Linked DNA regions of Homo sapiens: region 2 is linked to region 1. A link means that fine-mapping ties the variant in region 1 to the expression of a gene that starts in the linked region. Tissue or cell type: whole blood. Region 1 holds a variant in brackets; the other region holds the start of a gene. Each region is shown on its reference strand, or each on the opposite one.

Evidence for each region. PIP is the estimated chance that this variant, and not a neighbour inherited with it, causes the effect. A credible set is the group of variants that fine-mapping cannot tell apart.
Region 2: it holds the start of LDHD, and the variant in region 1 is the best candidate, but not a certain one, in a credible set for the expression of LDHD in whole blood (TOPMed, PIP 0.53).

What each region holds. Positions count from the first base shown.
Region 1 is chr3:101,357,749-101,373,778 of GRCh38, reverse strand. It overlaps SENP7 (SUMO specific peptidase 7), which reads left to right. Exons shown (of 24, transcript NM_020654.5): 7 at 1,653-1,771; 8 at 5,768-5,949; 9 at 7,010-7,349; 10 at 8,788-8,945; 11 at 11,918-12,064. It also overlaps the pseudogene ZNF90P1. Among named protein-coding and RNA genes, the nearest start is that of IMPG2, 45 kb to the right of the region's middle. The variant A/G (reference allele first, on the strand shown) is at 8,019.
Region 2 is chr16:75,112,980-75,129,009 of GRCh38, reverse strand. LDHD (lactate dehydrogenase D) reads left to right here and starts at 12,230. Exons shown (of 11, transcript NM_194436.3): 1 at 12,230-12,361; 2 at 13,350-13,462; 3 at 13,671-13,812; 4 at 14,042-14,183; 5 at 14,325-14,484; 6 at 14,845-15,044; 7 at 15,140-15,268; 8 at 15,348-15,475. The coding sequence starts at 12,290. It also overlaps a transcript of ZFP1 not described here. RefSeq lists an enhancer at 12,705-12,999.

The sequences.
Region 1 (16,030 bases):
TATTTGGATTGAGATTATATTACAGATGTGTTTGGCTTCACTGTTGTGCATTTGAATCATATGACATTACCTTTTGAAAATACTCATTTTTATTTTTGGTTTCATGCCAACTACTTAATGCTTAGCGTTTAGTCAAGAAAATCCTCTGTTATAAAGTCTTTTTTCTACAACCATATAACTTTTAATGTGATTTACATGTGAAATCTTATTTTGTTTTTCAGTGTTCATTGTGCTAGAAAAACAAGGACTATTACACTGTTTGCTTCTTATATCAGGGGAAACATAAGTACCTAAGCATCTTTTTAGATCGTCTTTTAGGTCACATTTTATTTTTGTTTATAGTGCCTGTAGTGATAATTCTTTCAGGGAGGACAAATTTTTTTTGACTTCTCTTTTGGTTTTCATTTTCAGTAAACAAAACTCTATGGTATAAATTTGCTTAGATGCCCTTATTCTTCAAGAATGATTCTTGAGGGTTGAGGAGTGGAATGATTTGACTCAGTCAGAACCTCTTTGCAAGTGAAATTGGCTCACCCTTACGATTTTGATTATTTTGGCCTTTTAATTTCCAATCTGAAAATAAAGAAAATTTTACCAAAGTAAATATGAAAATGAGCAGTGTAATAGCAGCAATAACCCTTTCTTTAACTATGACACTACACTGGTGATGTTTGGATACTGTAGCTTTTTTTAATTTATAAGTCATTTTTAGCCTTCCAAATAATTCTCTCAAAACAAGGAAGCATTACGTGTAATTGGTCTTTATAGTCCTTGTTTTTGACTTATACTAGTTGCCTTAGTTGTAAATAATTTATATATTTTAAAATTATGAAATACTTCAAATATGTACATAAGTATAGAGAATAATATGCCAATACATATCACTCAGATTTAACCAATATAATTCCTATTTTTTCAGATTTAAATTTGTTTTTAAAGAAGTATTATAGAAAGTTGAAAACTTATTTATTTTATATTCCCTGATTCTAATACTCTCCCTCTTTAGAGTTATCTACTACCCAAATAGGCTTGAATCCTTCCAGTCTAAGTTTTTATATTTTGTTTCATATGTATGCACTTATACATTATAGTATGTTTTATATTTCTAAATTTTCCTTAGTAGTAACATTGTGACTATCATTCCAAAATTTGTTATTTTACCAGTACCTTAGACTTTAAATTATTTTCTCTGTAGGTAAAATTTATTACCACATACTACTGAAAATTTGTTACCATACTTTTGGTATATGAACCACGCTTGAAATATATTAACATTCAGCTTTGGCTTATAATTGTTTGCCTATACATAGGTTTAATTATTGAGGTACTTGTGTCCTTGGAATTTTACTTTTTAAACCTAATTTAATACTTGTATAGTATTACTCTTTTGCTCATTTTGCATGTACACAATCCTCCAATGTTGATATCTCATTTTTTTTCCCCCTAAACACACATGGGGAATTTAAAGGTAGAAAAGGGAGGATAACTTATTTCTTAAATCTGAGTTCAATATTTTTTTTACTACCCAGATCTTATAGTCTGCCATGTGGGACTGTGTTTGTAATGTGTTGGATTTTTAAATACATGCTAGTTGGCTTCTAAATTCATTTGGGCTTTATTAGAATTGAGTATAATACAGTTCTCTTTTGCAGGGGCTCACAACGAAGTAAGACAGTAGATGACAATTCTGCAAAGCAGACTGCGCACAATAAAGAAAAACGAAGAAAGGATGATGGCATTTCTCTTTTAATATCTGATACTCAGCCTGAAGGTTTGTGAACCTTAGAAAACTGTTGGAATTTGAATTTTTTCTTATTGTATTAATAATAATTTTTGTTATAAATAAATTATTTTATTTTACTTTGAAAGGATATGTGAAAGTAAAGGGAGATTATTTGGCAACACAAATAAAATTGCTAAACCTACTCTTTATGTAGCGTAGTACTCATTTCTAGATTTATTTACTAATCCCAAAAGTTAAATTTTAATATATTTTTTTCTTCTTTGGGGAGACTTGGATATAGCTATGAAGTTATGTTCATTTAGCTGTTTCTAAGTGTTGTTTCCATGGATATTAATGTTACTGCTAACTGGGTTTTTATTATTAGCTAATCACTGTCTATTTGCCTACCATGAAATACATTCTCTATTCATTAGAATTTCTCTCAACTTCAGGAGGATGCCAAACAAGCCACTATTAGCAAATTTGAAGGTAAATACTTCCTAGACTTGTGAAAATTTTTTGTAGGCCTCCTTGCATATAGGATTTATGATTCGACTTCTTTTTCTTTTTTGCCTCTCTTTCAAGAATTAAAAATATTTTACTGATACTTGAAGAAAAACAATTTTACTACATTATTTATTTGTGAAACTAACACCTTTAGGGGTCTGTTGGATTATTGATAGCTTCAAATGTTGTTGAAGTCTCTTTGTTGCTTGCTTTCTTTCTTGCTTTTCTCTTTCTCTTTTTCTTTTTAAGACAGGGCCTCACTCTGTCACCCAGGCTGGTGTACAGTGGCATGATCACACATGATCACAGCCCACTTCAGCCTCTATCTACCTCCTGGGCTCAAGTGATCCTCCCACATCAGCCTCCCGAGTAGTTGAGACTATAGTCATGCACCACCACGCCTGGCTAATTTTTTGTATTTTGCAGAGACAAGGTCTTGCCGTGTTGCCCAGGCTGGTCTCAAACTCCTGGGCTCCAGTGATCTGCCTGCCTCGGCTTCCCAAAATGCTGGGATTATAGGCAAGAGCCACCGCGCTTGGCCACTGTTTTATTTTTGAGTGATTTCATAAGTTATTCACAATACAAAAAAATCTTTTGATGATGCTGTGCAAAAATTCATTACACTTCATTTGGAGCACAGCTATTTAAAGATTCTTTTTAGTAGCCTTTTTAATAGAAAAAAATTTAAAATGAAACTACAGTAATAACTTTTATTTGTACAAGAAACCAGCTGAAACTCTTATAAAGGCAGTCTTTGGAGAATGTGCTGTGACTTTGTTCAGACAAGCTTCCAATTAGTCACTGTCAGTGTATAATGAAAAACATTTATTTTCTTATAAACTGTACTTTTCTTAGAAGTAATTACAATCATCTCTGTGTATCTTTGTGTTCTGCATCTGTAGATTCAACCTAGCAAAGATGGAAAATATTTGAAAAAAACTTCAATAAAAATAATACAATCATAAAAAATACATATAACAACTACATAACATTTATGTTGTATTGGGTATTATAAGTAATCTAGAGATTATTTAAACTATACAGGAGAATGTATATAGGTTATATGCAAATACTATACCTTTAGGGGCTTATGGATCCATGGAGTTTGGTATCCTGGGTCCCTGGGACCAATCCCCTGAGGATACTGAGGGATGACTGTATTGATTACCAAGTAAAAATGTAAGTATTTGTACAAGTGGGCTCAGTTCAGGTACTATCAAGACAAAGATTCCTACTCTACCCAGGAAAGCAGTAGAATGTGAGGACTAACAGTCCTCACATTGACTTGAATAAAATACTTTCTGATTTGTACCCAGGAGTGTTACCTCAAGATCACAGTGGCATTTTAGACATGCATCAGGGAAGAGTACATGACAAAAGAAACATTTTTTAGTTTTTCAGTATCCCTGAAGGTACCACTACTGGTAGGGAAAGTGTTTCTAATACAATTAGCTATTGAATCTTTATTAAAGCAGTGTTTACTCTCCTACATCTGATACCAGTTATTTTTTAAAAACCTGTAAATTAATGGAAATTCTGAATGAAATCTTAGGTGTACCATTTTTTTCCATAGCACATTAAGTTTGCCTTGTGGAATTTGCTTTCACCAACATAATACCTTGGAAATACTTAGTATTCTTTTGTTTACAGGATTTTGTCACCTCTTTAGTTTTATATGCTAGTAATATTTGCAGGTTGAATTATATATTATGCAGGTGGAATTCTATTTTTACAATATTTCATTCTATATAATAAAGTTATTCCTTTTTCCATGAGACAGGCTTGACTGATATGCAAATAATAAATTGTTTAAAAGAAAACTCCTGTATAATCAAGTTTTTCTCAAGCCCCTTTCCTTTCATGAATCATTTTACTGTAGTATAATATTTATGTTTAGAAATTATAGTTTGATACATTGTGTGTAGAAATTGTATTAGACCACTTTTATAGTTTACAATATTACATATAAAATTTAATGTGCTATCCTAAATATTGTGTTGATGATTTGGGGGGAGTTTTATTTTCCTTAGGGAGTAAGGTGTTTTCTCTGGAAATTGAAAGGCGATTGACTATCTTGGAATTTTTACCCTCAATCCTGTTCCAGTGCCTTCCTTTAAGTAATGTCAAAGACAAATTATCATGAATATTAGTTATTAGGAATTGTTGAAGCTACAGTAAAAGCAAGAATAGTTTGAAGAGAAGATGTATGGTGTTGAAGAACGTTCCGTGAATGGAAAAGTCAGGCCAGTCAGATGAATTGAAAATTGTGAATTAAAGGCAACTGCTTTGTGACTTGCTGTGTATAAACTTTGAGTTGGTACTTGTATGACATAGATTCAGAAAGCAAAATAATTCAGGATAACTTTTAGTCAATTAGGTGGAAACTTTTGGAAGGTATTTTTGTACAGTACATATATTTGATAACAAATATTAAATATTTTTAGTAATGATTGGCATGAGTTTCAAAATGATGTCTTGTTGACTTAAAAAAGGAAGTACTTCTCTAGAATGATGGATTTATTGGAGACTTAAAATGACAGGGTCTTGATTATTGAAAAGAAGAAATAAACTGGCAAGTAAATTGGTAACCTTGTGAATGATCACATATTATAGCCAACTACAGAGCAAAGGTATTTTGTCTCCTTTTAAAGAGCAGTGATCAACACTCTTTCAAATTATAGTCCCTTTCCACTAAAAATATGTATTTATGTAAATTACATTTTAAAAGACTTAGTTTATAAAGTCACATTGAATTATCAAACTTTAAGACATGAATTTTCTGGATTTTAATAAGACCCCCCCTTTTTTATTATTATTATTATACTTTAAGTCCTAGGGTACGTGTGCACAACGTGCAGGTTAGTTACATATGTATACATGTGCCATGTTGGTGTGCTGCACCCATTAACTCATCTTTCACATTAGGTATATCTCCTAATGCTATCCCTCCCCCCTCCCCCCACCCCCCACCCTACAACAGGCCCAGTGTGTGATGTTCCCTTTCCTGCGTCCAAGTGTTCTCATTGTTCAGTTCCCACCTATGAGTGAGAACATGTGGTGTTTAGTTTTTTGTCCTTGTGATAGTTTGCTGAGAATGATGGTTTCCAGCTTCATCCATATCCCTACAAAGGACATGAACTCATCCTTTTTTATGGCTGTATAGTATTCCATGGTGTATATGGGCCACATTTTCTTAATCCCCTTTTTTTTTTGATAGTACAGCCAAATGCATTTATAGCAAATGGAAAAACAGTTTGGTGGCTTTGCTTTGGCTACTATGAAAAAGGATATTTCTTCTTTATATATTTTTCTCACCTCACAACTATTGTATAATGAACATTTACTTGGTATATACCAATTAAAATAGGGCATGCCTTTACCTTCATCCAGTGTCAGTATGAGAATTTAACAGTACATTTCTGTTTTAATGAGCTTTGGAAGTAGTATAGCAATCCTGATGATGTTACTTCGAGCTTTTCTAAAAGAGATTCTCTCTATACTTTTTTGTCCATATTTATGCTTCATTTGTTTTTTAAGACCTTAACAGTGGAAGTAGAGGTTGTGATCATCTCGAACAGGAAAGCAGAAACAAGGATGTTAAATATTCTGATTCAAAAGTGGAACTCACTCTGATTTCCAGGAAGACAAAGAGAAGGCTTAGAAATAATTTACCTGATTCTCAATATTGTACTTCTTTGGATAAGTCAACAGAACAGACAGTAAGTAGAGGTATTTAGATATTATAGGAAATAATTTCATGCTATGATAAAAACGAGTTGACTGTGGCCAAATAATGTTCCTCTAGCTTTCAGCTTTTATTATGAGATTTCTTTAGTTTTTGGTTCACTGTTAGCTTTATTATTAAAAAACAATTCTAAATGTAACTTTTCTTGGTGATACAGAGTTATTGGAACACATTTCAAATACTATGAATGATTAAAAAAGTTAAAATTGCTTATTTTCTTGTATCGCTCTTTCCTTAGTAGGTAGTTGTACATCCTTCAGACTTTTCTTTTTCTTTATTTCAGCCAAATACTATTCATACTGTCTAGTCATTTTTTTTTGCTTGCTCTGTAAAATTATTATTAGATTTATTTTATCAGTAGCAATTTACTTATCAAATTCTTTAAGCTTCTGTTTATCTAGAGTTTAGGGAATTTATTCTAAGTAAAGAATTATCATATTAAATACATACATTTTCTATTTTCAAAGACTTAGTATATAAGTAGCAATAAAACAGTAAGACAGCTTTTCAATTTCTTTGATCCATAAATCATTTCAGGACCTTGTAATGTTTTTGGGTTGTAATTATAAACATGATTCAGATTTATATAGTAAATGAGATATTGAAGGCAGTGGTTGATTTTCATAATTTTTAATGTTGTTATATTGTTGATTTTTAAATTTTTTTACCAAAGTAGTTTTACCAAAGTAGTCACATTGGCATTATTACTTTTGCAAAATAAAAATATGTAAATACATCTTCTCATTCTAAAGTTGACTTAGATCATGGGAGACCGTCTGACAAAGCATTTGTAATGATGGAAATCTCCCAATTTCACCCTTTAAAAAATTATCAGGCATCAGATTGGACAGACCAAATCCTGTATCTTTAAATTTGGGAGACATTGGCAAGTATAATGTAGTATAATTGTTTAGTTTTCTATCCATGTAGTTATAGAAGTGATATAATATTTTTACTTTTTTTTAGGAATTTAAAAATGGTTTAAGCAAGCCAAATTTGAAAAATGCTATTTTTTTCTATGTGTTTATGTTTAGAAAAAACAAGAAGATGACTCAACAATATCCACTGAGTTTGAAAAGCCAAGTGAAAACTATCATCAGGATCCAAAACTGCCTGAAGAAATTACAACTAAACCTACAAAAAGTGATTTTACTAAACTATCCTCACTTAACAGTCAGGAGTTGACTTTGAGTAATGCCACCAAAAGTGCCTCTGCCGGTTCAACCACTGAAACCGTTGAGAACTCTAATTCCATTGATATTGTGGGGATTTCTTCCCTGGTTGAGAAGGATGAGAATGAGTTGAATACCATAGAAAAGCCTATTCTAAGAGGACATAATGAAGGGAACCAATCACTGATCTCAGCTGAACCAAGTAAGTGACAGGAGGATTATAAAGTTACTTAATTTCCTCTGCTTTACTTAGTTATTTTTTTATTCTTCTTGAACAAATTTGGCTAAGGCCATAAGCTGTTTATGACATCATTGTGGAATATATTAACTTTAGGAAAAAAGGGCTTGGGGTTTGGGGTCTCCTTCATGAGTTTTAAAATATCGATTTAGGTAAACTAATGGAGGACTTGAAAACAGAAGTAATTTTTTTCTTAGATTAGTAAGTACACTGTCATCTCAATAGTTTTAAAATAGATTATTTAAAGACCATCATTACTGTCATTTGGTTGATGAATTATGCAGAGTTTAAGTGCTATCTGATTATTATCATTAATTTTCATTTAATCAGCTTCTGAGTAGTTGATGCCATCACATGGTACAAAGAAATTCCAAAGGTTTTAAAGGATCTCCAGTGAATACTCGCCCACATCTTCCCCTAGTTATTAATTTCCCATTCCTTGAAGCAATTCATGTAACAGGACTTAAAAGTACAATTTAGAGTGATGGCACAATACACTGTTAGAACTAGAATTTGTTACTAAGGCCTCCTCATGGCTTTATCCATTTTTAAACATCTTTATTCTTTAGAAGGTAAGGGTACAGGTAACTGCTGAATAATTGCGCTGATATAGAGTCATTGTCTGTAACTACT[A/G]TAAATCAGATAACAACTGATAGGCCTGTTTCTAAATTGAATAAATTTAGATGATTCAGTTTAACAGGATTATTAAAAATAAATTGCATTAATTAGAAAGTTCTTTTTTTTTTTTTTTTTTTTTTTGAGACAGAGTCTCTCTCTGTCGGCCAGGCTAGAGTGCAGTGGTGCGATCTTGGCTCACTGCAACCTCCCCCTCCTGGGCTCAAGTAATCTCCTTAATCAGCCTCCCAAGTAGCTGGGATTATAGGCATGTACCACCATGCCCGGCTAATTTTTGTATTTTTGCTAGAGACAGGGTTTCACCATGTTGGCCTGGCTGATCTTGAACTCCTGACCTCAGGGAATCTACCCACCTCAGCCTCCCAAAGTGCTGGGATTACAGGAGTGAGCCACTGCTCCCGGCCAAAAGTTCTTTTTTTGATATGTGATTGTTACACATTTAAAATACATTTTTCGTCTGGGTGCAGTGACCCACACCTATAATCCCAGCACTTTGGGAGGCCAAGGCAGGAGGATCACCTGAGGTCAGGAGTTTGAGACCAGCCTGGCGAACATGGTGAAACCCTGTCTCTACTAAAAATACAAAAATTAGCTGGGCATGGTGGCGCATGCCTGTAATTCCAGCTACTCGGGAGGCTGAGGTAGGAGAATTGCCTGAGCCCGGGAGGTGGAGGTTGCAGTGAGCCGAGATGGGGAGACTGTGTCTCAAAAAATAAATAAATAAATAAATAAATAAACAAAAATACATTTTTCTTTTCCGTTTTAGTTGTTGTTTCCAGTGATGAAGAAGGACCTGTTGAACATAAAAGTTCAGAAATTCTTAAGTTACAATCTAAGCAAGACCGTGAGACAACTAATGAAAATGAGAGTACTTCTGAATCAGCATTGTTAGAACTACCATTGATTACATGTGAATCTGTACAGGTAATTTATTTCTGTCTTCTCATAGATTAACAATGAAATGTACACTATTGGTTAATGACTGTTATTTGTTTTATCAAGCTGAATATTGTAATGAAAATTACAAATTTTCTTAGTTTGAATTTTCAGACAACTTTTATAGTAGTTTGAGTGAAATACGTAGTTGTCTTTATTTTGAAATGAAAAGATTATGCCATTTTCTTCTGGTGATTTATATTTTTCAGTCTGAATAGTCTATTACTTGAATATTTTTCTTTTTTTATGGCTTTCATTGGACATTTCACTAACATTTTGTAGAATTAAACACATTTTCTAGTATTTATATGTCTGGTCTTGGAGTATTATGGCTACTTGGAATTACTCCTTTTCCTCACATACTATGAAGGCAGTATGATATAGAGGAAAGAACATGGCTTTGGAGATATAGGTCAGAAACCTATCAAGTTTGGTAAGTCCTCTGCCTCTTCATTCTTATAGAAAATCATAAATGGAAGTGTGTTAGTTTAATATCAGTCGATTAATTCAGTCCTTTGAAGAGAGTAGGTCTAAAATAAGGTTCAAATCATTTATTATCAGTATTCTTTCTTTCTTTCTTTCTTTCTTTCTTTTTGAGACAAGGTCTTGCCCTGTCACCCAGGCTGGAGTGCAGTGACATGATCATGGCTCACTGCAGCCTCAACCTCTTGGGCTCAAGCATCCCTCTCATTCAGCCTCTCAGGTAGCTGGCACCATAGGCTCATGCCAGCAAGCCTGGCTAATGTTTTTAAAATATATACTATTTTTAGAGATGAGGGTCTCTCTTTGTTGTCCAGGCTGGTCTCTAACTACTGGGCTCAAGCAATCCTCCTACCTCCACCTCCCAAAGTGCTAGGATCACATGCATGAGCTACCGCTCCCAGCTGGTACTCTTTCTTATTATTAGTCTGTGATTATTCTATTTGTAAGAAAAGATCATTGACCACCAGTGCAGAATTATGGTAAACTTATCTTGTTTTGTTTTTGAATAATGTCAGAGGCTGTTATTTTGCAGAGTATGGTGAAGAGTTGGCCCGATCTATGAAAACAGTTTGGTCTGATTATTGTTTCATGGGTATTTTCTTTTGTATTTGGTATTCCACGTAGAAATCACCTCAGCAGCTTTGTTCTGAATTTTTGCAAAAATGTAACCATTTTTACCAGATGGGGTCAATATCCTACTTGATGGTTTAGTTGTATATATAATTAAAAGTGTCATTATTGATAATGAATTTAAACTTGTAGAAGAATTAGGTCTTGGCAGGGTATAAATTGACAATGTAGTATGAAATGATCATATTATAAGAAAATAACATATCTTGTGGAATTTACTACATTCATAATCACAACCAAGCAGCCAATACTGTGGAGATCTACAAAGACATATAAGGCAGAATGCCACATCTCTATGCTCTCTCTTGTTCCAGTTTTAAATGAATTATGAGAAATATGGATTGGTCATTTTTAGGAGCCAGCTAGTTTTTACAAAATGTGAAACCCAATGAGAAATTATTTCTATACCAACTTCTCATTTTATCACTAAAAAAGCCCACAGTTATTTGTCTGACTGATGTTGGAGCTACCTGATTTGATTTGATTGATTGATTCCCTTTTTTACTTAGGGAATAAGAAGATATTAATAGTATACTAAGCAATAAAACATGAGAATGACAAAGAAATTCAATTAAGCAGGTAAATGGCGTTATGAGCTGGGTTTAAAATAATGAGTATGATATATGTTTTAGATAAGGATTAGTCACATTTGCGAGAGGTAAGAGGGGAGTGAGTACATATGCATAATAACTGCTTTAGTAGTAATCTGTTTGGTAATGTGTGATGTTACGGATAATGTGCAGAGGTTAGGCACATTTGAAAAAGTTGAAAAAGTCATCTGAAAGTAGTGTAAATTTCAGAAGAAACAGTGGGAAAGAGTTGCTGCTGATATTGCCTGGTTTTCTATTATAATTTAAAAGCAAAGTTATATAGTCACTTGAGTGGAAGTGATATGATTTTTGAGGTTTTAGGCAAGTATAAGCCATTTCTGGTTGGTTGTCTTCAAACATAGAGTATACAATAAAGCATATAAATTTGAGATAACAGATGGTTCTTAGGTACTTACATTCCTTCACGGCATATTAAAAGTGCAGTAGCACACAGGCATAAAGATGGGAACAATAGACATTGGAAACTCCAAAAGTAGGGGGAGGGTTGAGGAGAGCCAGGGCCATAAAACTTCCTGTTGGGTATTATCTGGGTGACAGGTTCAATAGAAGCCCAACCCTCAGCATCACGCAATATTATCCTTGTAACAAATCTGCACATATGCCCCCTGAATCTAAAATAAAAAAATTTTAAAGTGCAGTAGCAAGAACATTATTTTGGTTAATGGAAACAATTTTATGTGGTTGAAGTGACACTGGACCTGGAGAGAGAAACGTGCATTTGAATCTTTGTTTTGCTTCTTACTAATCGCATGATTTTAGGCAGGTCGCTTAACCAATCTAAACATCTGTTAACTTTATTTATGAAATGGGAAACTGAAAAACCTGCCTATAGGGTGGTTGTGGGGATTAAAAGAGATAATATATTTAAAAACCTATTTTAAACAAAAGTACAATATATGTTTAAAACTTTCTTCTGTCAAGTTAAAAATGAATAAAACCTATTAGAGACTATTGAATGTGAAACCATGGCTTTGATACAGAGGAGTATATATTTCTGGAGCTTAGGCTGTGGAATTAATTTTGGATTCAGCTATTTAGTGTAATTTTCTCAAAGGTAAGTCATATATTTTTTCAGAAAAAAAATCTAGATAGCTATTTCTTCACAGTAAGAACAGTATAAAGTTCTTCAAAAATTCACTAATAGTAATTTAAAGAAGAATTTGATGGTGAAAGTCATTTTCAGCATTTATATAGTACTTAAGAATTATATGCATTTTATGATTTATTCCTTGTTAGATGTCATCTGAATTATGCCCATATAATCCTGTCATGGAGAACATTTCCAGTATTATGCCTAGTAATGAGATGGATCTACAACTGGATTTTATATTTACTTCTGTTTATATTGGTAAAATAAAAGGAGCTTCTAAAGGTTGTGTTACAGTAAGTATATTTTCTTTAATTTTCTTTTAGTTTGGATCTTGGACAAGGCATTTTAATTTTTTTCCTTTTTTTTCTTAGCACAAATAAGAATAGAATTAAGATTTATTTTATATGGGACACTTTGGATATGTTGAAAGTCATTATACCTAATTTGAAATGTGTCTTTCATTCTCCCCTCCTAAAATCCTACCTAATCTGACTACTCTAATGAAAATCATGTGTGAAAAAAAATCACATGTATTGATAATCTTTGGGTTCTAAAAGTTATTTGATGGTAAAGTAAAATTTTTTTCAAGGTATAGTTTGGAGCATAAAGAAGAAATCTTGTTTTACCAGTTTAAACGGTTGTAAACTGACTTCTCCAAATTTCTAAATTAAGGATATCCAGGAACTAATCCTACGCTGTTTTTCTAATTAAAAAAGAAAATACTCCTCCTCACCCACTGTATATGAAAGTGAGACTGGATTCTACTCGGTTCTCTATTTTTTTTTTTTGGGGGGGCGGACAGAGTCTCACTGTTTCACCCAGGCTGGAGTGCAGGGGCGCACTCCACTGATCTTGGCTCACTGCAACTTCTGCCTTCTGTATTCAAGCGATTCTTGTGCCTCAGCCTCCCGAGTAGCTGGGACTACAGGTGCGTGGCACCACACCTGGCTAATTTTTGTATTTTTTGGTAGAGATGGAGCTTCACCATGTTCGCCAAGCCGGTCTTGAACTCTTGGCCTCAAGTGATCCACCTGCCTCAGCCTCCCAAAGTGCTCGGATTACAGGTGTGAGCCACTGTGCCCAGCCAGTTCTCTATATTTTCTTACCATTTTGACCTTTTAAAATCCTAATCATCTTTTAAAGCTTCTCTGATATACTGACTCTTCCAGGAAACTTTCCCTAATCCCTCCTTTTTAGACGGAATTAACTTCTCCCTTTGCTATACACTTATAACACTTCATTTGACTTCTAAGATTTATTCTGTGTGTTTTATAATTACCTATATTCTTATATAAACTTCTCCATTAACCTTTTAAGCTGCTTATGGTGAAGAGCCACAGTTTTAGTTCCTTTTATAGCTTCCATAAATGTTTCCACTCTAAGCAGGCACTTAAATGTTTGTTGAAGTGACTGTGTCAGATTTAGTAACTCAGGCATTTTTTATAGCAGTTTCATTCATATTTCACTGTGTTAGGGATAAGGCAGAGAATATAAAAATGCTAAGATATGGTTTCTGCTTTCAGGGAGCTTTTAATCTAATGGAAGAGACAGACACATAAATATTTACTTTACATTATGGTAAAATATAAAACAGAAATATGTACAAGAAGGGTGCATATGGCAATGGATATCTATCAATGTCTGGAGGAATCAGGAAAGGCTTCACAGAGAAGACAGCACATGAATAAGACATGAAGTACCTGTTGTTTACTTGGTACCCATGCAGACAAAGACCTAATCCCAAATTCTGGGAACTGCAAATAATAGTAGTTTGTGATACAGTCACCATTGCTTCGAAAGCTCAAGAATGAATTAAAATTAACATTTTTTTGGCCACTGGTTTTAACTGATTTTGGCATGTCTGGGGTGATTTTACAATTCTTTTTCTTTAAGGAATTTTATTCATTTTTCAGGATTTTCTCCCCTATTTTACTTTATTATTTTAAATTCAGGTTTACCCAGTTATTTCTGTTGAGTTCTTTTTGATGGCAAAAAGTTGGATAACCTAAATATATGAGAGTGATGATTAGCCGGGGGAAGGAAAATCCAATATAAATATTAAACAATGGGATTTCTATTAATTAATATATTAATTATATTATTACACAGTCAGGTGGACATGTTATGCTCAAAAACCAAGATCAAGCAAAAAACCACAAACAAATTAGTAAAGGAACAATATTACAAACACATATAATCTTGCCTATTTAGAGACAACTGCCATTCACTGTATAGTATATATCGTTGCATATTCTTCATACATATATAGATACATTAAAACAAAGGGATATTACATAATATGTACTATTTTGTAACTTACCATAATTTCATTAATTTAATTCCTCTACTTATTTTGGGATATTTGGGTTGTCTTTAAAAATTTTTAATTGTTGGTCATTTCAAATTGTCCCAATATTTTACTATTACAAACAGTAGGGAACTGCAAATATTCAGTAAGCATTGTAAAGTGGTCCTAAAAATTAATTGTCAGAAGTCCTGGCCAGGGCCATCAGGCAAGAGAAAGAAAGAAAGTACATTCAAATTGGAGGAGAGGAAGTCAAACTATCCCTGTTTGCAGATGATATGATTCTATGTCTGGATTCTATATATATATTTATATATATTATATATAAATTTTCTAGATATAGGATCTCAGCCCAAAAGCTCTTTCAGCTGATAAACAACTTCAGCAAAGTTTTAGGACACAAAATCAGTGTACAAAAATCACTAGCATTAATGGCTTTTCCATATTCTTTATATGTGGACAATTTTTCTCAAGGGTAATAGCTTTCCTGTGAAATAAGGTGTAAGCACAGATTAAAAGTTTTGCCACATTCTTTATACTTGTAGGAGTTTTGCCAGTATGAATTATCTTACCTACAATCAAGTGTGGCAACCATATAAAGGCTTTGTCACGTTTTATACATTTCTAGGGTTTCACACTAGTATAACTTTTTTTTTTAATGTATTGCAAAGTTGGAGGTGTTTGTACAAGTACTGTCACATCTTTCAGGTTTGTAGAGTTCCTTTTCAGCATGAATTATCGTTTGTCTCTTAAGAATTGAGAACTTATGACTAGGCATGGTGGCTCATGCCTGTAATCCCAGCACTTTAGGAGACTGAGGCAAGTGGATCATCTGAGGTCAGGAGTTTGAGACTAGCACGGCCAACAAGGTGAAACCCCCTCTCTACTAAAAACACAAAAATTAGCCAGGCATAGTGGTGGGCACCTGCAATCCCAGCTACTTGGGAGGCCGAGGCAGGAGAATGGCTTGAACCCAGGAGGCGGAGGTTGCAGTGAGGTGAAATCATGCCATTGCCCTCCAACCTGGGTGATAAGAGCAAAACTCTGTCTCAAAAAAAGAAGAAAAAAAAAGAATTGAGAATTTGTTGTAGGCTTTGCCACGTTCTTTACACTTGTAGAGTTTCTGTCCAGTATGAATTATGTGTAATAAGGGTTGAGAACTTCCTTAAAAAGCTTTGTCACATTCTTTATATTTGTAGGGTTTATGTTCCATATAAATTCTCATATTTACTAAGAGTTGAGGGCTGGTTAAAGGTTTTCCCACATTCATCACATTTATAGGGTTTCTCTCCAGTATAAATTATCTTATGCTTATTAAGGGTTGAGGAACATTTAAAAGATTTGCCACATTATTGACTCTGTAGGTTTCCTGTGCAATATGAATTATTTTATGTTTATTAAGGGCTGAGGACCAGTTAAAAGCTTTGCCACATTCTTCACATTTGTAAGGTTTCTCTCTAGTATGAGTTCTCTTATGTTTAGTGAGGCTTGACTAAACCAGGTGAAGGTTTTGCCACATTGATCACATTTGTAGGGTATATCTCCAGTATGAATTATCTTATGTTTAGTAGGGTTTGAGGAACAGTTAAAATTTTGCCACATTCTTCACATTTGTAGAGTTTCTATGAATTATCTCATGTTTAATAAGGGTTGAGGATGAAATGAAGGCTTTGCCACATTTAACACACTTGTATGGTTTCTCTCCAATAAGAATTTTCTTATGTGAAAAAAGGGGTGAGGGGTGGTTAAAAGCTTTGCCACGTTCTCTACATCTGTAGGGTTTCTCTCCAGTGTGAATTATCTTATGTGTAGTAAGGTTAGAGGCAGCTTAAAGGCTTTGCCAGATTCTTCACATCTGTAGCGTTTCTCTCCAGTATGAACTTTCTTATGTGTAGTAAGGGTTGAGGACTGGTTAAAAGCTTTGCCTCATTCTTTACATTTAAAAGTTTTTTTT
Region 2 (16,030 bases), not on the chromosome of region 1:
GAGACCAGCCTGACCAACATGGAGAAACCCCGTCTCTACTAAAAATACAAAATTAGCCAGGCGTGGTGGTGCACTCCTGTAATCCCAGCTACTTGGGAGGCTGAGGCAGGAGAATAGCTTGAACCCCGGAGGCGGAGGTTGCAATGAGCCAAGATTGTGCCATTGCACTCCAGCCTGGGCAACACAAAGAGCAAAACTCTGTCTCAAAAATAAACAAACAACAAAAAAAGTGGCTTATGTATATAAATATAAATAGGTTGCTGTTATTTTCTTCTGAAGTTTAAGTTGTCCAGCTTCAGTTCACAGGGCTTTATGAAAACACAGCTTAGTTTTCAGTGACTCCAGATTAGGCAAAATGGGGAAAAAAAGAAGGAAAAATTTGAAAACATTATTTTGAAGACACGTTGCCAAGAAAAATTAGAATTTGGTTCAAACTGTAGATAATAATAAGAATTGAAAAATATTAGACAAGACTAGAATCTAACAATGAGTGTTACTATAGTTTTGGAAACATAATTTTCCTCTCTCTAGTTTCCTATTTTTACTAAAGACAAATCATGGTAGGACTGGTTTGCTTTATTGTACTTGGCCTAATTATTTGTATACACTACAGCAAAAATAATTAATGTTTACACAGGCTTTTAAACTGGTTTTGATGGAACGTTGTCCCAGAGAAGGAATCTCAGATAAGACTTTTTTTAAAGCCGAGCCCAGCCATGAATTTGTACCATCAAATACTGATGAGTTGGGTAAATTCTTCTCCTCTTGAGGTTCCAAGATAAACGTGGGGCTCCTGGGCCCCACAGTGACATTCTTTACTTACCACAGGTCAGGAACCCTTTACAGGGACTGTGTAGACAAAGGTATGAGGCCAGTTTTTCAAGGGGCTTTTATTGGCTCCATAAGTGAAGTTTGATTCCTTAAAGGAAAGCACACCGTTCTGGTCAAAGTCTTGGTAAAAATAACTAGTTTCTCCAATGGTGTCCTGTTACAAATGAAAACAGATTCTTTTTGCACTTATGCAAATAACTGTATTGTCATAAGTTAGGAATACTCACAAATAGTTTCCAAAATCTGTAGAAATCAGGTAGAGAGAAACAAATATGCTCTGAATTTTGTTCTTGAGTATACTTAACTCAATTGTTAAAAGTTGTAAATAGCTTAAAAGTTTTCTTGACTCTGAAAAGCAAAACAAAGATCAGCAATGTTTTAAGCAAAAAGTTAAAAAGATTACTTCAGACTTCTATTAGTTTAGTCCATGCAGTTAATTCCTGTTCTGCTTGATATTCATGAACATTTCAGCCCTCCCTGAATCCTGAAAGTTTTTCCTTTATGCTGATGTCACAATCTCCAAAGTTATCAGAAACCTGCATTCAAGAGCACCTGTTAGGCCAGACACAGTGACTCATGCCTATAATTTCAGCACTTTGGGAGGCTGAGGCCAGCGGATCTCTTGAGGCCAGGAGTTCAAGACCAGCCTGGCCAACATGGCGAAACCCCATCTCTACTAAACATACAAAAATTAGCCAGGCGTGGTGGTACATGCCTGCAGTCCCAGCTACTTGGGAGACTGATCTCCTCATGCTTCCCTCTTCATGCTCATGCTTTTTTTCTGAGACAGAGTCTTGCTCTGTCGCCCAGGCCGGAGTTAAGAATCACTTGAGCCCAGGAGGCAGAGGTTGCAGTGAGCTGAGATCATGCCACTGCACTCCAGCCTGAGCAACAGAGGGAGACTCTTTCCCTGCCCAAAAAAAGAGCACCTGTTAGAGTTTTAGAGTTTTACAGCTGATTATAAAACTACCTTTTATAAAATCAGTTTTATAGCTGATTGTAAAACCAAAGAGGACCAAAACAAGACGATTATCCGTGAATGACAAAAAGTTTTAGAGCAGCCATAGTCAAAGATACAATTGGCAAGGAAATTTGTTACTTCTGCAGCACACAATAATTTAACATAACAATTATGGTTATTACTGATAATGTACATTAAGTCAGATCAGAATTATAGGAGTTTCTCATAATTTTGGGACACATACCAATAACATATTTATAGGAATACAGCCCAAAGAAAACCAAACACCATTTTATATTTGACAATGCTTCCTGTATAATTTTTAGACCAAATAAGCCAAATATGTCATTTTTGGATTTTAGAGAACCTATTAATAACATTTTAAAAGACTAGTTAGGTCAGAAAAAAACATAATTTATAATTTTATCTTGGAAAGTTTGTCAAATATCAAAGGTATAAAACACTTGATATTACAAAATAGGATTACAAGTCATTGCAAAATAATTCATTTAACTGGCTGGGCGTGCTGGCTCATGCCTGTAACCCCAGCATTTAAGGAGGCCAAGGTGGGTGGATCACCTGAGGTCAGGATTTTGAGACCAGCAGGCCAACATGGTGAAACCCCATCTCTACTAAAAATACAAAAATTAGCCTGGTGTAGTGGCGCATGCCTGTAATCCTAGCCACCCAGGAGGCTGAGGCAGGAGAATCACTTGAACCTGGGAGGCAGAGGTTGTAGTAAGCCAAGATTGCACAATTGCACTCCAGCCTGGGTGACAGAACAAGACTCTGTCGAGGCGGGTGGACTTTGCAAGGCTGAGGTGGGCAGATCATGAGGTCAAGAGATTGAGGTCATCCTGGCCAACATGGTGAAAACCTGTCTCTACTAAAAATAAAAAAATTACCTGGGCATGGTGATGCACGCCTGTAGTCCCAGCTACTTGGGAGGCTGAGGCAGGAGAATCGCTTGAACCTGGGAGGCGGGGGTTGCAGTGAACCGAGATCGTGCCACTGCACTCCAGCCTGGCGACACAGCAAGACTCTGTCTCACAAAAGTAAATAAATAAATTAGTTAATTAATTAAAAGAAGAATTCATTTAACCAAAGTGATAACTCAAGGATTTAAAAAATACAGTGAAAACCTTCATTCTTTTTTTTTTTTTTTTTTGAGATGGAGTTTTGCTCTGTTGCCCAGGCTGGAGTTCAGGGGGTTGATCTCAGCTCACTGCTCACTGCAACCTCTGCCTCCCAGATTCAAGCGATTCTCCTTGCCTCAGCCTCCTGAGTAACTGGGATTACAGGCACCTGCCATCATGCCTGGCTAATTTTTGTATTTTGGTAGAGATGGGGTTTCACCATGTTAGCCAGGCTGGTCCTGAACTCCTAACTTCAGGTGATCTGCCCTCCTCGGCCTGCCAAAGTGCTGGGCTTACAGTCATGAGCCACCGCACCCGGCCTGAAAACCTTCATTCTTTAAGAGAAGAGATTTAAATGATAAGCCCTAGTAAAAACAACATGAAGCCAATTAAATTTGTTTTCCAAAATTTTATAAACAATTTATAAAATTTTCATCTTGATCATAAAATACAACTTCCAGCTGGGCACGGTGGCTCAGGCCTGTAATCCCAGCACTTTGGAAGGCCCAGGTGGGTGATCACTTGAGGTCAGGTGTTCAAGACCAGTCTGACAAACATGGTGAAACCCTGTCTCTACTAAAAAAATACAAAATTAGCCAGGTGTGGTGGTGCATGCCTGTAATCCTAGTTACCTGGGTGGGTGAGGCAGGAGAAATCTCTTGAACCTAGGAGGTGGAGTCTGCAGTGAGCTGAGATTGTGCCATTGCACACCAGCCTGGGCGACAAGAGCCAAACTCCGTCACAAAACAACAAACAAACAAACAAAAGTACATACAGGCAGATAGAAGGATGTGATAATTTTAATTAAAAAAAAATTTTTTTCGAGATAGAGTCTTGCTCTGTTGTCCCAGCTGGAGTGCAGTGGCATGACCTCAGCTCACTGTAACCACTGCTTCCTAGGTGCAAGCAATTCTCCTGCCTCAGCCTCCCAAATAGCTGGGATTACAGGTGCGTGCCACCATGCCTGGCTAATTTTTGTATTTTTAGTACAGATGGGGTTTCACCATGTTGGCCAGGCTGGTCTCAAACTCCTGACCTTTGATCCACCCACCTCGGCCTCCCAAAGTGTTGGGATTCCAGACCTTAGCCAGTGAGCCCAGCCCATTCCTCTTTCTTAAACTACCAGCCATTTTACTTTAGTACTAAATTTATCATACAAAATTCTTTCTCATATGAAATTATTTCTCTTTAAGCTTTCTTACCAAAAAAAAAAAAAAACCTCTTTATTTTTATAACTTTTTTTTACATCTCTTTTATTCCCTGGTTCCTTTTACCTTGCTTTTTTTTTTTTTTTTGAGATGGAGTCTTGCTCTGTTGCCCAGGCTGGAGTGCAGTGGCACCATCTCAGCTCGCCGCAAGCTCCGCCTCCCAGGTTCATGCCATTCTCCTGCCTCAGCCTCCCAAGTAGATGGGACTACAGGCGCCTGCCGCCACGTCCAGCTAATTTTGTTTTTGTATTTTTAGTAGAGATGGGGTTTCACCGTGTTAGCCAGGATGGTCTCGATCTCCTGACCTCATGATCCACCCGCCTCAGCCTCCCAAAGTGCTGGGATTACAGGCGTGAGCCACCATGCCCGGCCCCTTTTACCTTGTTTTATACATGACCTTTAAATTAGCTTTGAAGCCGGGCGTGGTGGCTCACGCCTGTAATCCCAGCACTTTAAGAGGCTGAGGAGGGCAGATCACCTGAGGTCAGGAGTCCAAGACCAGCCTGGCTAACATGGCAAAACCCTGTCTCTACTAAAAAATATCAGAATTAGCCAGGAGTGGTGGTGGGTGCCTGTAATCCCAGCTACTTGGGAGGCTGAGGCAGGAGAATCGCTTGAACCTGGAAGGCAGAGGTTGCAGTGAGCTTTGTACCACTGCACTCCAGCCTGGGCAACAGAGCAAGACTCTTGTCTCAAAAAAAAAAAACTTTCAATTAGACAAAAATTGTTCACCTTTTTCAAAAGGACACACTTATTTTTTATTTGTATTTTACTTTTTTTGAGATGGAGTCTCACTTTGTCACCCAGGCTGGAGTGCAGAGGCGCAATCTTGGCTTACTGCAACCTCTGCTTCCTGGGTTCAAGTGATTCTCCTCCCTCTGCCTCCCGAGTAGTTGGGACTACAGGTGCGTGCTATCAGGCCCAGCTAATTTTTTTTTGTATTTTTAGTAGAGACAGGGTTTCACCGTGTCGGCCAGAATGGTCTTGATTTCCTGACCTTGTGATGCATCCTCCTTGGCCTCCTAAAGTGCTGGGATTACAGGTGTGAGCCACCACACCTGGCTGGGACACAACTTTTTTTAAGAAAGAATGTTTTTGGCCTGTGTGGTGGCTCACACCTGTAATCCCAGCACTTTGGGAGGCTGAGGTGGACAGATTGCCTGAGCTCAGGAGTTCGAGACCAGCCTGGGCAACATAGTGAAACTCTGTCTCTACTAAAATACAAAAAATTAGCCAGACATGGTGGCATGCATCTGTAGTCCCAGCTACTTGGGAGGCTGAGGCAGGAGAATTGCTTGAACCCTGCACCACTGCACTCCAGCCTGGGTGACAGAGGAAGACTCTTTCTCCAAAAAAAAAGAATGTTTTCCTACATATATATATATATATATATATATATATATATATATATATATATACATATACACACACACACACACACACATTCTTATATATATATTTGTAGGAAAACATTCCACAAATATATATACACATATATATATATATACACATATATATATTTTAGACAGAGTCTCTGTGTCGCCCAGGCTGGAGTGCAGTGGCATGATCTTGGTTCACTGCAACCTCCACCTCCTGGGTTCAAGTGATTCTCCTGCCTCAGCCTCCTGAGTAGCTGGGACTACAGGCATGCACCACTGTGCCCAGCTAATTTTTGCATTTTTAATAGAGATGAGGTTTCACCATGTTGGCCAGGCTGGTCTCAAACTTCTGACCTCACGTGATCCACTCGCCTTGTCCTCCCCAAGTGCTGGGATTACAGGTGTGAGCCACTGCACTTGGCCCAAATATATTTTTATTGGAAAATACCCAAATAATAAAATCTCTATTATTTAACTTTAGATTCAAAATTATGAGTTTGTCTATATTTATCCTATAATATTTACTTATTTTATTTTAATTACTTACCTAGATTATTTATAAAAACTGTGCTTGTCATTATTTAAAATTATGGAACTGCCATTGCAAAATTATCACTGAGACAGTGAAAAAGATTGCACCTAAGTGACTCCATCTTGCTTCTAACCTCCAAGCTGTTCTTGTTCATTCCTGGGCATAGGCCAAACTAACTTTGGGAGGAACTTATAATTTAGCTTTGAAACAAAGATGATAACAGTGCTTTTCCAAAACAAACACTATTGCCTATAGACCGGACTGCCTAAAGCCACAAGATGAGAAGTTATGGTAATCTTACTAAATTTAAGATGTAGCTATTTTTATTAAACCAATATTAATGTCTTATTTATTAAAGATTTGTTAAATATAGTGAACTCCAAGTTTCTCTTCAAAGAATCAGTATGTCAGTATGTTCAGCTCTCTTATTCTTTGATTCTCCATTTTAAAGTTTAGCTTCCTGGTTCTCTTTGCCCCCTAGCTTCTAGTTTCAGTAAACAACTTTCCCGCCAGTCCTAATCAGTAGTTCACAGCTGTTCCCCTGGTCACCTGCTTTGACCTGAGTCACTCTTGGTCACCTACTCTGTCCTGATTCATCCTGAGCCAACTGTTCTGTAACCGCCCTTACTGCTAAACTACTCACCCTGCCACTCCGGCTGGTACTCCTGCTCTTTTTAAAATAGTCAATTGGAATTAGCTTAGACTGTGCGGTCCAACCCTATCCAATAGGGGAACGACACAGCAGTAGGGGCTACCTGCATGAGGAATAAGAACTCCTGCCCCTCCCCTGTCCAAGTGTGCTCTCACCATTGTTTCATCTGCGAGGGGCACCTTTTCTGCAGAAAGTGAAAATTGCCTTGCTGAGAAAACTAAATTTATGTTTGAGTGCTATTTCTTTGTGGCACTGGGGAATAAGCATTTTGCATTTCTAACAAGCTTACACAAGCAAAGATCATTCTGTTTTGGGCTGGGTATACAGTTTTGTAACCCCTATGAGAAATTTTGACACCTTATAGTATTTGGCAGGGATAAGTATGAAACTGCTGGATTAATATGCAAACAAAAATGTATGCTGGCAATTCTTCAGACATTTCTAATATTACTTTACCAGTAATTTTAAGGCTAGCTTATTTATTAATAATTTTACTGAGTTACATAAACTTGAAAAAATATTTGACGAGTCTTTTTTCCTGATAAAGCATTTCATTCGAGCACTTTTATTTTCTTAAGCCAGTTAATTAGAGCTCTTTTAAGCATTTTCAGTAGTGAAGCATTGTGTACACAACACATAAATACATAGACGTATTAGGCATGCTGATAGAAGTACATCTTATGGATACACTCAGATTATTGATAACCTGCTTCACAACCCTAGGCAGTTGTCAGCTAACTAGCCTTATGTTTGCATATTAAAGGAAACAACTCAGGTGAAAATCAAATAGCAAAATTTACATCATAAGGTACAGAGAGAAAAAGTCTGATGGTGCCAGAGGGAGATGAAAGATGAATGCCAAATCAAACATAAAATTAAAGAAATTTGCCGGGTGTGGTGGTTCATTCCTGTAATCCCAACACTTTGGGGGGCCGAGGTGGGCGGATCACAAGGTCAGGAGATCGAAACCATCCTGGCTAACACGGCGAAACCCCGTCTCTATTAAAAATACAAAAAATTAGCTGGGCGTGGTGGTGGGCGCCTGTAGTCCCAGTTATGTCTGTACTCTCTGGAGTACAGAGATCACCCCACTGTACTCCAACCTGGGTGACAGCGAGACTCTGTCTCAAAAAAAAAAAAACAAAAAAGAAATTTATCATAGGATTGTATAAGGAGACTAGTTTTATTTAGATAAAGGGACTACCTTTTAAGTGGATCTCTGAGCTCTGGGCAGAGCCCACACTGAATCCTGGGTCTCCAAGAAGGGACACTTATTATGAGGTTAGAACACGTGATGCTTTTACAGTGCACTTTTTAAAAAACTTCTTTTAAACAAAGACATTTCTAAGTGTCTAAACCATAGTCTTCCTTAAAAACCCAAGGGTAGGCTGGGTGCAGTGGCTTATGCCTGTAATCCCAGCACTTTGGGAGGCTGAGGCGGGCGGATCATGAGGTCAGGAGATCGAGACCATCCTGGCTAACACGGTGAAACCCGTCTCTACTAAAAATACAAAACAAACAAACAAACAAACAAACAAACAAAAAACAAGCTGGGCATGGTGGCGCTTGTAGTCCCAGCTACTTGGGAGGCTGAGGCAGGAGAATGGCGTGAACCCGGGAGGCGGAGCTTGCAGTGAGCCGAGATTGCGCCACTGCACTCCAGCCTGGGCGACAGAGTGAAACTCAGACTCAAAACAAACAAACAAACAATACAAAAAACAAAAAACAAAAAAACCCAAGGGTAACCTCTGTTGCAATAACTATTTTAGTCAAAAAAAAAAACAAAAAAAAACCCAAAAAAAAACCACAAACAGGTAACAACAATACAAAAGTAAGCAGTTGAAGAGACGAGACGAACTTGCCTGTTTACACTCTGGGGATTGCATAAGAAAAAACAGGTTTCTCCCTTAAAGGGAGCCTGGTGCCTTCTCTGTTCTCTTTAAGGAACCCCAGCTATTATAAACTATTTTAGGTCCCTCATGCAGCAGAGGGTGCAAGAGAAAGGAGATACAGCCGAAGTAAATGAAGAAAACAGAATTCAGTCAACTGAGAAGAAAAAAACTTTCGCTCAAAAAAAGACAAGATTCTTGGAGAAAAACAAAAACAAAAACATGAAGTCCTTTTAAATACAAACACACACACGCACATGCGCACACACACACACACCACACATACACATGCACATCTTCGATGTTAGCTTTTAATTAAGCTGACTTTTAATCATTGAGCTCCTTTAAAAAAATCTTTTAAAATCTCATTACCATATTTCAGCTAGGACAAATTGCTGCTATTTCAGAAGCACAGCCATTGCTCTTTCAGTTTGGCCTGGCTAGCAAAAAGGTGGCCTCGTTGTGTAACTAAAGCCACTTAGTAGTCAAAATAAAAAATCTTTCCTTTTTTTTTTCCTTTTGCTGGCTGTTTTTCACCCCCTATCACATCATCCTTTGTGTATGTGTGTGTGTGTGAATTTAGCCACTTCAGAGGCCTTGTTCCCCATAATTTGGGACTTCCTTTGTATTTGATCAAGTCAGATAGAGTTGATCAAACCCAATGGGAAAAAGACTGAAAGAACAACAAAAAGAGAAATGAACAACAACAAAACAGTTAAGCAAAACAAATGATCACACAATTTATATGATTACTAAGCTTTCTAGTGGTAAGGAGAAATTAAGACCAGCTGGTTGTAATCTTAACTTTAGCCAAAACAAACCCCAATTCAGTTACTTACCTAGGGATGGGTTTCAGGCTGAAGACTGCTCTCTACCATCCTAGAAGCAGGGAAAAACCCTCATCTTCCCTGTTGGTTGCGAGCTCAAACACCATAAAGGAGTTACCTGCCTTCCATCAACATGGAAGCAGGAAAAATTTGCCTTCCTTGTGTTAGAAGCAAGTAAAACTCCAAAAAAAAAAGAGGAGTTGTACAACAAAATGAACTTTAGATCTTGACCAGATTTTGAAAGATAAGGTATTCTCTGGAGGGTGTGCTTCCGGGCCTCAGCAAATTGTCCTATTGGTTTGAGCCATAAAGATAGCTCAAGCTGGTACCAAGCACTGATAGCTTTGTCAAAGGTCAGGGGCGCCTCCAGTCAGAATTCTTCTGTGGTTACCAAAATATGAACCCCCCAAATCTGAGAAAGGTCTCAGTTAATTTAGAAAGTTTATTTTGCCAATGATGATGGTGTGACACAGCCTCAGGAGATCCCAATGACATGTCCCCAAGGTGGTCAGAGCACAATTTAGTTTTATACATTTTGGGGAGACTTGAGACGTCACTCAACATACGTAAGATGAACATTGTTTGGGTCTGGAAAGACAGGGAGGGGGCTTCCCGGTCATAGGTAGATAAGAGACAAATGTTTGCATTCTTTTGAGTTTCTAATTATCCTCTCAAAAGGAGGCAATCAGATATGCATTTAGCTCAGTGATCAGAGGGGTGACTTTGAAAGAATGGGAGGCAGGTTTGCCTTAAGCAGTTCCCAGCTTGACTTTTCCCTTTAGCTTAGTAATTTTGGGGGCTCAAGATATTTCCCTTTCAGACCTCTTCAGTAGAATTCTTTCTTCTGATGAGGCAAGCATTGAGTTTTATGTAGACCTGTATGGATTTCCCACCACTCACATGAAGACCATGACCTGTGACACATTCCCTGGAGGTCCTGAGAACATGTACCCAAGGCAGTTGAGTTACAACTGGTTTTATACAGTTTAGGGAGGCATCAGACAGTAATCAATATAAGCAGGGTATGCATTGGTTCCTTCTGATTGAGGGAGGAGCTTACAGGTCATAGGTGAATTCAAAGACTTTTCTGATTGGCGCTGGGCACGGTGGCTCACACTTGTAATCCCAGCATTTTGGGGAGCCAAGGCGGGTGGATCACTTGAGGTCAGGAGTTCGAGACCAGCCTGGACCAACATGGTGAAACCCTGTCTCTATTAAAAATACAAAAATTAGCTGGGCATGGTGGCACTCCTGTAATCCCAGCTACTTGGGAGGCTGAGGCATGAGAACAGCTTGAACCCAGGAGATGGAGGTTGTAGTGAGCTGAGATCACGCCACTGCCTGAGCAACAGAGTGAGACTCCATCTCAAAAAAAAAAAAAAATTTCTGATTTTCAATTGGTTGAAAGAAGTTATTATCCAAAGACTTGGAATCTTGGTATACAACAACAAAATTTTTTTTAAATAAAAAATTTTAAAAAAGACAACCTGGAATCAATAGAAATAAGCATCTGGGTTAAGATAAGGAGTTGTGGAGACCAAGGTTCTTTTTTTTTGAGACAGAGTCTCGCTCTGTCGCCAGGCTGGAGTGCCGTGGTGCGATCTCAGCTCACTGCAACCTCCACCTCCTGGGTTCAAGCGATTCTCCTGCCTCAGCCTCCCAAGTAGCTGAGACTACAGGCGTGTACCACCATGCCCAGCTAATTTTTGTATTTTTAGTAGAAACGGGGTTTCACCATGTTGGCCAAGAGGGTCTCTATCTCTTGACCTCGTGATCCTCCCACTTTGGCCTCCCAAAGTGCTGGCATTACAGATGTGAGCCGCTGCACCCGGCCCAAGGTTCTTATTATGTAACATAGATGGTAAATGTCTAAGGCGTTAAAAGGTGCCAGACTCTTAGTTAAATCTCCCTTAGATCAGGATAAAACCTGGAAAGAGGCTGGACGCGGTGGCTCATGCCTGTAATCCCAGCACTTTGGGAGGCCAAGGCAGGTGGATCACGAGGTCAGGAGTTCAAGACCAGCCTGGCCAAGATGGTGAAACCCTGTCTCTACTAAAAATAGAAAAATTATCTGGGCACAGTGGCAGGCACCTGTAATCCCAGCTACTTGGGAGGCTGAGGCAGGAGAATCGCTTGAACCCAGTGGGTGGAGGTTGCAGCACGCTACTGCACTCCAGCCTGGGCCACAGAGTGACTCTGTCTCAAAACAAAACAAAACAAAACAAAAAACCTGGAAAGGGGAGGGGATTCTCTACAGATTCTAGATTTTCCCCACAAAAGACAGCTTTTTGGAGCTATTTAAAAAAAAAATCAGAGGAATATATTTTGGGGGTAAAATACATTGATTTCTTTCAGGGCCTGCTATCTGTCAGGTGATGCTAGAGTCAGGTTGGAATTTGGTATCTTATTGCTACAAAGAGTCTGTTTTGTGTCTTAAGATCAGAATGCCTTAAGGTCTCTGTTTTAATGTTAATGCTGGTCAGTTGTGTCTGAATTCTAAAGGAAGGAGGGGGATAATGAGGCTTGTCCTAAACCTCTTCCCATCACAGCCTGAATTAATTTTTCAGGTTTATTTTGGAATGCCCTGGGCTGAGAGGGAGGTCCATTCAGTCGGTTGGGAGGCTTAGAATTTTATTTTTGCCTTACAGTTTCCCAAAACGTCCAGTGAACCTCGCCTCTCCTTTAGAAGTGTCGTCCCTGGAGCCCACGAAAATGTCTGCAAGATCTGCAAGGGCCACCTTAAAGCCCGTGCCACCTTAAGCAGGCCCCACCCCTGGCCTAGCCAATGGGCTGACAGCAGCAGTAGCTGCTGCCACAGTAGCTGACTGGTCACCCTGCCACCCAGTGCTCACACCCTCTGGCCAGTGCCTGGCTATGGCCCGACTGCTCAGGTCTGCAACCTGGGAGCTGTTCCCCTGGAGGGGCTACTGCTCCCAGAAGGCAAAGGTACCGGGAGAGAAGAGAAGTCCTCTGGAGGGATGAGGTGGGGAGCGGGGAGCAGGGGGTTCTGATCCCAAGTTTCCTGGGCTCTGTGACGCCCCAGCACCAAGTGACCTGACCTTGGGCAAAAGGGCACTGGGCTTACCCTGTGGCAACTGTGGGTGGGTGTAGAGTGAGATCAGCTGAGTCCCCACTGCTACCATGAGTGGGGCTGGGGGAGTCAAATGGATGCCCCTGGAATAAAACACACCTGTGGAAGAAGGCCCTGAAGGAAAGGGCCTGGGTTCCAGGCCAGGCTCTGTCCTTAACTTGGCCTCCATTTCTCATCTGTAAAATGGGAAGAAACACATCCCCCGCCCCGCCGCGCCCCGCCCCCCACGAAGGGCCCAGAAGCCCCAGGCAACGTAGAGTGGGGAGGGGGCAGTGGAAGCTTTTCCTCCCCCTAATTCCCTTATCAAGCTCTGAGTTCCCTGTGGCTGGGGTGGTGCTTGGTTGGCCCTGGAGAAAGGAGGAAGTGAGGGATCTTTTCGGTTGCTCAGGCTGGGCTGGCTATTGAAGGAACCCTGCTGATAGCCTTTTTGGAGAGTGAATTCTGGTTTTTTATTTGGATGGCTGGGCGCTGTGGCTCACGCCTGTAACCCCAGCACTTTGGGAGGCCGAGGCAGGTGGATCGCTTGAGCCCAGGAGTTTGAAACCATCCTGGGCAACATAGTAAGACCCTGTTTTTATTAAAAAAGAAAACATTAAAAAAATTCTGGTGGCGTTTTTTTCTGAGGGGAAACTTTGACCCCCAATGGCTCTGTTTGGAAAAGAGGCATTTCTGGATAGTGGGTTTGTTTAAAGTGGGCCCACCTGGCAAGGATGTTGTCAGCGGGGCGGGCGCAGGGGAGGCTCACTCCAGCCTCCAGCCCCCAGCCCTCCCCCCGACACTGGGGCAGGGCTGTGGCCCCATGTGTCTTTCGGGGGACCCTGGCAGTGTGTTTCTTCCCTGCAGGGAGAGCTCTGCAGGGACTTCGTAGAGGCTCTGAAGGCCGTGGTGGGCGGCTCCCACGTGTCCACTGCCGCGGTGGTCCGAGAGCAGCACGGGCGCGATGAGTCGGTGCACAGGTATGGGAGGGTTCGCGGGCCCCTCCCCTGTCTTCTGGATTCAACCCCAGCTGAGAGAGAGGGTGCTGGGTTGCCTTCCTCCTCACTCATCTGTTTTGGGGTGCTCTGGCATGTTCTCTGCCCCTCGCTTGCTGTAGCCTCAGGCCCTGCAACACCTCGGGACCAGAGGGTGTCACGCCCCGCTAAATCGCTGAGGGTCTGGTTCTAGGTGCGAACCTCCTGATGCTGTGGTGTGGCCCCAGAACGTGGAGCAGGTCAGCCGGCTGGCAGCCCTGTGCTATCGCCAAGGTGTGCCCATCATCCCATTCGGCACCGGCACCGGGCTTGAGGGTGGCGTCTGTGCTGTGCAGGTACAGTGGGGCTCCCTCGCCCGGCCCGAGGATGGTCCCAGCACACCTTGGCACACCTGTGGCTGCCTCCCCCGCCACACACGGCACCTTGGGTCTGCTCCCGCCCGTGGGCTGCCTGCCTCTGGGGGTCTGGTCTGGCTGCTGGGGGGACACCCGCGGGGTGTGGTCCGGGGACGTGGCCAGGTCAGAGACCCAGGTCTGCAGTGGTCTTAGCACCTGCCCCAACCAGGGCGGCGTCTGCGTTAACCTGACGCATATGGACCGAATCCTGGAGCTGAACCAGGAGGACTTCTCTGTGGTGGTGGAGCCAGGTGTCACCCGCAAAGCCCTCAACGCCCACCTGCGGGACAGCGGCCTCTGGTTTCCCGTGGGTAGGACTCGCGAACCTTTCCTGGGACCCTGAGGGCACCGTGGGAGCAGGGCTGTGTCTGGGGTTCAGGGGACCTTCCTCCCCCAGCCCGAGGGAAAGGACCTCCGGTCCCTGAGGCTGCCTTCTGTACGCCGCCCTCCAGACCCAGGCGCGGACGCCTCTCTCTGTGGCATGGCGGCCACCGGGGCGTCGGGGACCAACGCGGTCCGCTACGGCACCATGCGGGACAACGTGCTCAACCTGGAGGTGGTGCTGCCCGACGGGCGGCTGCTGCACACGGCGGGCCGAGGCCGGCATTTCCGGTGAGCGCCCTCTGCGGGGGGCCCGGGCTCTGGCCCTGGGCACTGCTGGCGGGCTGCCCTGCAGAGACCGGGCTGTGAAAAGCACCTCCTGGCGGCCCCCTGGTTTGGCAGGCTAGGCTTCCTCAGGCTCTGAAGCCCTGTCAGCTGGGCCAAAGTGGATGGGACCAGGGTTTGCTCTCCCTGCCTGAGGCCGACTGGCTTTGTGGAGCAGAAAGCACTGGGCCAGGGAAACTGGGCCCGAGGGAGGCCAGCCCAGACCTCAGTGCCTGGGGTCGGTGTCTTGGGTTCCAGCTTCGGCTTCTGGCCAGAAATCCCTCATCACACAGCCTGGTACTCACCTTGTGTGTCCCTGGGACGTAGGAAGAGTGCAGCCGGCTACAACCTCACGGGGCTCTTCGTGGGCTCCGAGGGGACGCTGGGCCTCATCACAGCCACCACCCTGCGCCTGCACCCTGCCCCTGAGGCCACAGTGGCCGCCACGTGTGCGTTCCCCAGTGTCCAGGCTGCTGTGGACAGCACTGTACACATCCTCCAGGCTGCAGTGCCCGTAGCCCGCATTGGTGAGCTGAGGATGGGGGCAGTCAGGGTGGGCTCCCTGGAAGAGGCCCCCTGGGAAGGCCAGGCCTCACCTGGCCTGCCATCTCCCTGGATCCAGAGTTCCTGGATGAAGTCATGATGGATGCCTGCAACAGGTACAGCAAGCTGAATTGCTTAGTGGCGCCCACACTCTTCCTGGAGTTCCATGGCTCCCAGCAGGCACTGGAGGAGCAGCTGCAGCGCACAGGTATGCTGGGGTGGAGTGGGGCAGCAGGGTGGGCTGCCTCAGTGGCGGCCCGGTGTCAGCCCCCCTTCCCCAACTGCAGAGGAGATAGTCCAGCAGAACGGAGCCTCTGACTTCTCCTGGGCCAAGGAGGCCGAGGAGCGCAGCCGGCTTTGGACAGCACGGCACAATGCCTGGTACGCAGCCCTGGCCACGCGGCCAGGCTGCAAGGTGAGCTGGGGCTGGGGTACAGATGGGGCCCACAGCTCGGCCCACAAACCCTTTCCTCAACCCACCACTCTACTGCACAGAGCAGCAGGCTGAGCCTCAACAACGGGGCTGGGCCTGGCTGAGCAGGCGCTAGAAACAAGGGCTGCAGACCGCCCCACCCAGCTGTTCAGATACCGTCTACAGGGAAAGCACAGTTGTCTGCTAAGCCCTCAAAAGCCCTTCCTGTGAGCCAGGTCATGGGAACGGTGCGGTGCTCTTGGGAGCTGTACATGGAAGGAAGGCTTCCTGGAGGAAGAGATGATAGAGAGGGGGATGTTAGCCTAACCTGGGGAAGGGAAGTCTGGGCTCCAGGCAGCTATGCAAAGGCTCAGCAGCCTGGGGCTTGGGGGTGGGAGCCACAGGGGAGGTGTGGCAAGCACACCTGGGCCATTGGTCTCCTGTGTTGTGTCGGGGGGAGGTGAGGGCTGAGGCCTAGAGAAGAGCAGGATTATTTCCTTGTGTGAGGCCAAGAGCTGAAGCCCAGTGCCCTCCGACCCATCCTCAGCCTTGACCACG